2 separate regions of the Homo sapiens genome follow, and region 2 is linked to region 1. Evidence: fine-mapped expression QTL. A gene starts in region 1. The other region holds a variant in brackets. All regions are shown on one strand. Distances are between the middles of the regions. Region 1 holds the start of HOTAIRM1 (HOXA transcript antisense RNA, myeloid-specific 1). Region 2 has its middle 59 kb from the start of SKAP2.

Region 1 (2,500 bases):
ACTCTAGACGTGCAGCAGAATGAGGAAGGTTATAAAAGGAAGCTCTCTCTCTCTTCTAACATTCCCCTCCAGAAAAAGAGGAACGCAACGAAGGGAGTTCAGCTACTATGTTGGAGCTGTGGACCGGCCCTGTGAGGCCCACGCGGGAGCGCGGAGGCTCCTGGGTCTCAGGGCGCCGGCAGATGGCCTGCAGCGCACCGCCCGGCCCCCGCGCTGGCCACGTCCGCCAGCGTCATCTCTCTCCCCCGCCTCCTACCCCTAAAAATCCGGCGGTCGAGTAGCTCCGCATCCCGGAGGGCTCCCGGTGCAAAACTGAGTGGGAAAGAGAAAGGGGCGGAGAGCGACGAGAGAGGGAAGGTGGGGAAGAAGAGCCCGGCCGCCCCCGGCCTTTTCCGGCGAGCTCTGAGTTTCCAGGGCTCATCCGCCCCTCCAAGTCGAATTACAGAAACTCCTCATTGCCATGCTAATGACGAGAGGGGCTGTGGGGAGAGGGTTTCGAAGACCCTCCTGGAAGAAGGGAAGTTTCTTTTCTTGCCCTCGTCTCCTTCACGCCCACCCGAGTTCCTCCCAGCCAGCCCTCTGCGCTCTTCCCCCTCCATTCCGAGCTTGAAGAGCCGGTGGCCCAGCCTCGCCCTCCACCACGGTTCTATGCGCTCCTCACAGCCCCACGGTCTCCCAGCCCAGCCTCAGAACAGAGGAGGTGGCCTGGGAACCCGGGGCGCGGTGTCAGCCGGATTCCCCGCCTTCCGGCTGGGCGCGCTGCGGGCTGGGCCGGCGTACTTGCGGCCACCCGGCGAGCTCTGGCCCACTGATTCCCGCCCCGAGAGAGCCGGGAGCCCTCTTCCCTTCTCACCTCTCGCCAGTTCATCTTTCATTGAACGGTGGGGAGGGGGCGGGAGCGGGGGACGCCTCCCAGCCCCCACCTCCCGGAGGCCTGGCGGGGCGGGCAGCGGAGTCGGGCGCGCGCAGAACGCAGCTTTTGCTCTTCTTCGCTCCAGCACTCCAAATCGGCCTTTGCAGTCGCCGCAGCAGCTGCCGCCGCCTAGGCTGCCTGGGGGGGCGACTGCGCGTCACCTAGACGGCGGAGCGCCGGGGATTTAAATGCCACTAAAACGGTGATCCATCACTGCGGAAGCCGGCAAACTTTTGCAGGAGGCTCAGCCATTGGCTGACACCGTCACGTGCCCCTCCTCCAGCGTCCTCCGCCCTCCCGCCCCCCCTCTTGCGCACTGTACATTCATATCATTTTTCTTCTCCGGCCCCATGGAGGAAGTGAGAAAGTTGGCACAGTCACGCCGGGCTTCGCAGGACCAGGTCACTCAGTGACAGATGGACAATGCAAGAATGAACTCCTTCCTGGAATACCCCATACTTAGCAGTGGCGACTCGGGGACCTGCTCAGCCCGAGCCTACCCCTCGGACCATAGGATTACAACTTTCCAGTCGTGCGCGGTCAGCGCCAACAGTTGCGGCGGCGACGACCGCTTCCTAGTGGGCAGGGGGGTGCAGATCGGTTCGCCCCACCACCACCACCACCACCACCATCGCCACCCCCAGCCGGCTACCTACCAGACTTCCGGGAACCTGGGGGTGTCCTACTCCCACTCAAGTTGTGGTCCAAGCTATGGCTCACAGAACTTCAGTGCGCCTTACAGCCCCTACGCGTTAAATCAGGAAGCAGACGTAAGTGGTGGGTACCCCCAGTGCGCTCCCGCTGTTTACTCTGGAAATCTCTCATCTCCCATGGTCCAGCATCACCACCACCACCAGGGTTATGCTGGGGGCGCGGTGGGCTCGCCTCAATACATTCACCACTCATATGGACAGGAGCACCAGAGCCTGGCCCTGGCTACGTATAATAACTCCTTGTCCCCTCTCCACGCCAGCCACCAAGAAGCCTGTCGCTCCCCCGCATCGGAGACATCTTCTCCAGCGCAGACTTTTGACTGGATGAAAGTCAAAAGAAACCCTCCCAAAACAGGTCAGTCCTGCTGGTTGGTGGATGCTCCTTGATTATTCTGGAAGGAGCTGGTATGCTTAATTTCCAAGGAAATTAATAATGATCTTTTTTTTAAAAGGCTTTTGTATCAGACTAGTGTTGTAGTGCATGGAGAGGGTGCCCAGAGGTGTTGGGGCAAAGAAGTCTCAGGGATTGGTGTGTTTTCAAGGATTTTATACATTTGGGAAATAGGAAGTATGTGGGGGTGGTTATTGTGACGGTAGTGTTCTGTTAATATCTTGAGGCTCCATTAATCACCGGTCTGACCATGCTAATGGTTTACATCAGGTTAACACTTTACACCTCATCACTCACCCTCCACAGCCCGATTTGTGCTGAGTTCTTGATCTTTTCTTTACCTGAGTGTTGCCATGAAGCGTGTGGGGAATCTCAAGTCGATTTAAAAATTTTTACATTTCCGTCTCATGGCTTCCCACTTTGCCCCAGGGAAAGTTGGAGAGTACGGCTACCTGGGTCAACCCAACGCGGTGCGCACCAACT
Region 2 (3,020 bases), 170 kb after region 1:
GCAGATCCAGCTGAGAGCTTGGCATCCTGAGGCCTCATTTGCCTGGGTCAGTAGGAAAAAGGAAAGAAAGTGGAAACAGGAGGTCTGTAGTGAAGAGGTGTCTAACAGCTCATATTTGTCATTTGAAGAGGTAAGGCAGCTATGAATGGGCTTAGGTTAATGTCAGTATCCAAGGGGTTTAATCTGGTGTTTAGGACACAGTAGCAGAAACCTCTAGTGAGGAATGGTTATCAGAGTCATTCATTCATTCAACAGATATTTACCAATCACTTGCTGTGAACCAATGAGAATCTATTTTATGTGCTAGGGATAGTGCAGTAAAATAACAGCACATTCTCTGGCTTCATATTACTTACATTTTAGTAGAAGATCAATCCAGTTTAGAACAGAAATCTAGTCTGTGGGCCTAAGTGATCAGCAAAGGCTTGGCAGTGAATCAGGCCCAAGATTCGAATAGAACTCTTCTTCCAGTAAGAGATTCCAATATCACCTTAGAAAATCCTAGCAGAGGTCTGATCAGAGTGGGAAAAATACCTACACTAGGATGAAGGACCAGAGGGCCATAGGCAGGCTTGTGAATTTTTACTTTGCTATAGACAGCAAGACTAACTCCACACCCCTCTTGGTGCTGGTCATGATTAGTTTAGGAGAGGAGTGGGGTTGAACAGATAGTAGGAGGCCATTTGTGCCTGCAGCAGATCTAGACTTAGGGGAGAAGGAAAATGACATCTCTCCTCTAAAATGCGGATTCCTTCCCTCAGAGTCTCTACAGTAATCTTTTATGGGAGTGATATGACAGGTAAGTGGTAGAGTTGTGAGCCTTCAGGGAGAGAACTAACTTAAAAGCACTCTGAAATATTGCCAAACGGCATTCATATGTAAGGCATTAGAATAATAATGATAATTATTGCTTGTAGTAACTGATGTCTGAGAGGGCATCAACCTGGTATGGTAGCAGGTGACACAGAAGGAGAAGAGACCATGAACATACAATGAGCTCATTTCTCTTCTGCTCAAGGAACCCAAGTAATTACAAAACTTCAGCATATGTTTTGCATTACACATGTGGCTCTGTCAAAAATGATGGAGTGGTGTCACTTTATGTCTCTTTGAACTAAATGAGAGAGAGAGATGAGAAGTAAGTAGGCAAGAGACTGTATTTGATTTTATCTTTCTGCTTAAACTGTGTTTTCAATTTATAAACCAATTGGATACAAAATACTTATTACAGAACATGACTCTTTCCTTTTATATTAGAGGAGTTATCAACAGAGTGGTTTCTTGTGCTTATTAGAATCTTTGTTCAAATAAAGCCAAGTAAGAAAAATGGGTTGGGCCTCATCTGTCAGAGGGCAGAGGTAAGAAATAAGTAGACAAAGCACAGTATCAGAATGCATTTGACTGCAAGAAATAGAAAAGTCATCTGTACAGGCCTAAACAAATGAGCTTTGTATTTCTAACATAACAAGAAGTCTGGAGGTAGGCAGTTGCCTGAGTCAGTTCAGTAATCCAATGATTTCAGGGCCAGCTTCTTC[A/G]TCATTTTCCTGGCCAGAATATAGCTACCATGGCTCCAGTCACCATGTCCATGTTCAGGACAAGAAGGAAGACTGGTAGAGACATTCTACTTGTGGAGTCTTGTCTTTTTATTAGCAAGAGAGCCTTCCCTAGTGGACTTTCCCTTTGTCTCCTTGGCCAGGATTCAGTCATGTGCCCACTTATTGGCCAATCCCTGAGGAAAGAAAAGAAAATTACTATGACTGATTTAGACCAATTTCAGCTCATTCCTTGTTGTTGAGGTAGGGGTCTACCCTTCCTGAAATCAAGGGATCTCTTTCAAAAACCTGAATACAAATTGGAGTTTTGTTACCAGGGAAGAAGAGAGAAACATTTCTTGTTTAGACTAGGCACAGTGTCTGCCTTATGTGCCAGTGGATCAAAAAGTGGCTGCACACCCAATTCAGGGTGGGGAGACTCCTGAAAACTTAGTACAAAAAGATTCACAGAACTCTGCACATTAAACTAGAAAGTTGTCCCTGGCTAATCTTGTACTCCAGTATCTCCATTGCAGAGTCTTATGTGGTTCTTTCTTTCTCACTGCAAACTAAAGATGAAGGATTCTTTTGGGAGGCTGAAGTGGGCAGATCACTTGAGGCCAGGAGTTCGAGACCAGCCTGACCAACATGGTGAAACTCCGTCACTACTAAAAATATAAAAATTAGCCGGGCATGGTGGCAGGTGCCTGTAATCCCAGCTGAGGCAGAAGAATCACTGTAATCCCAGCTGAGGCAGAAGAATCACTTGAACCCGGGGGGTAGAGTTTGCAGTGAGCTGGGATCATGCCACTGCACTCCAGCCTGGGTGACAGAGCAAGACTCCGTCTCAAAAAAAAAAAAAAAAAAAAGGATTCTTCAGCCAGTGCATAGCCCACTGCAATGGGTGGTCTCCTGCCCTTTTTCTTTTTCTTAAAATTTGTATTATTTTAATTATTTTTATGTACAGAAATCTCAACAGTGTGCATTTAACCCAGTTTGGTGGCAAGTTCTTTAGCCTTTGCCTTTTCAAGCTTGGCAATGCGAGCCACAGATTTGGGACCCAGGACATTGCCTCCCCAGTGACGGCAGATCTCATCGTATCTGTTGTTGTAGTTGGTCCTGATAGCTTCCACTAGCTTAGCCAAAGCTTCTTTGTCTTCCAAGTTCACCTGTGTGAAGGTGACAGTGATCCAGGTCTTCCTGTGGACTATATGTCCCAGTCTTGCCTTCCTCTTGATAATGCAGGGGAAGAGACCCCCATTTTATGACACAAGGCAGGTAGGAAGACAAGCTTGATGGGATCCACATCATGTACAGTCACCACCAGCTGAGCCTTCTTGTTCTCCACCAAGGTGGTGACGGTGTTAACTCCTGCTTGAAGGACAAGTGGTCTCCTAGTGGAGATGTCCCCTTTGCTGCAAGCTTTCTTCTCAGCCCGGACCAACAGCCTCTGCTTCTTCTCTTGCTTTGTCTTTCTCTTGTTTGGTC

Evidence for each region.
Region 2: its variant is fine-mapped to the expression of HOTAIRM1 in whole blood (INTERVAL, PIP above 0.99).

Annotation. Positions count from the first base shown.
Region 1 is chr7:27,094,742-27,097,241 of GRCh38, reverse strand. HOTAIRM1 (HOXA transcript antisense RNA, myeloid-specific 1) reads right to left here and starts at 1,148. Exons shown (of 2, transcript NR_038367.1): 1 at 854-1,148. HOXA1 (homeobox A1) reads left to right here and starts at 1,242. Exons shown (of 2, transcript NM_005522.5): 1 at 1,242-1,981; 2 at 2,447-2,500. The coding sequence starts at 1,330. RefSeq lists enhancers at 280-852, 978-1,272, 2,154-2,500 and a silencer at 756-925.
Region 2 is chr7:26,922,411-26,925,430 of GRCh38, reverse strand. It overlaps the pseudogene RPL7AP38. Among named protein-coding and RNA genes, the nearest start is that of SKAP2, 59 kb to the right of the region's middle. The variant A/G (reference allele first, on the strand shown) is at 1,536.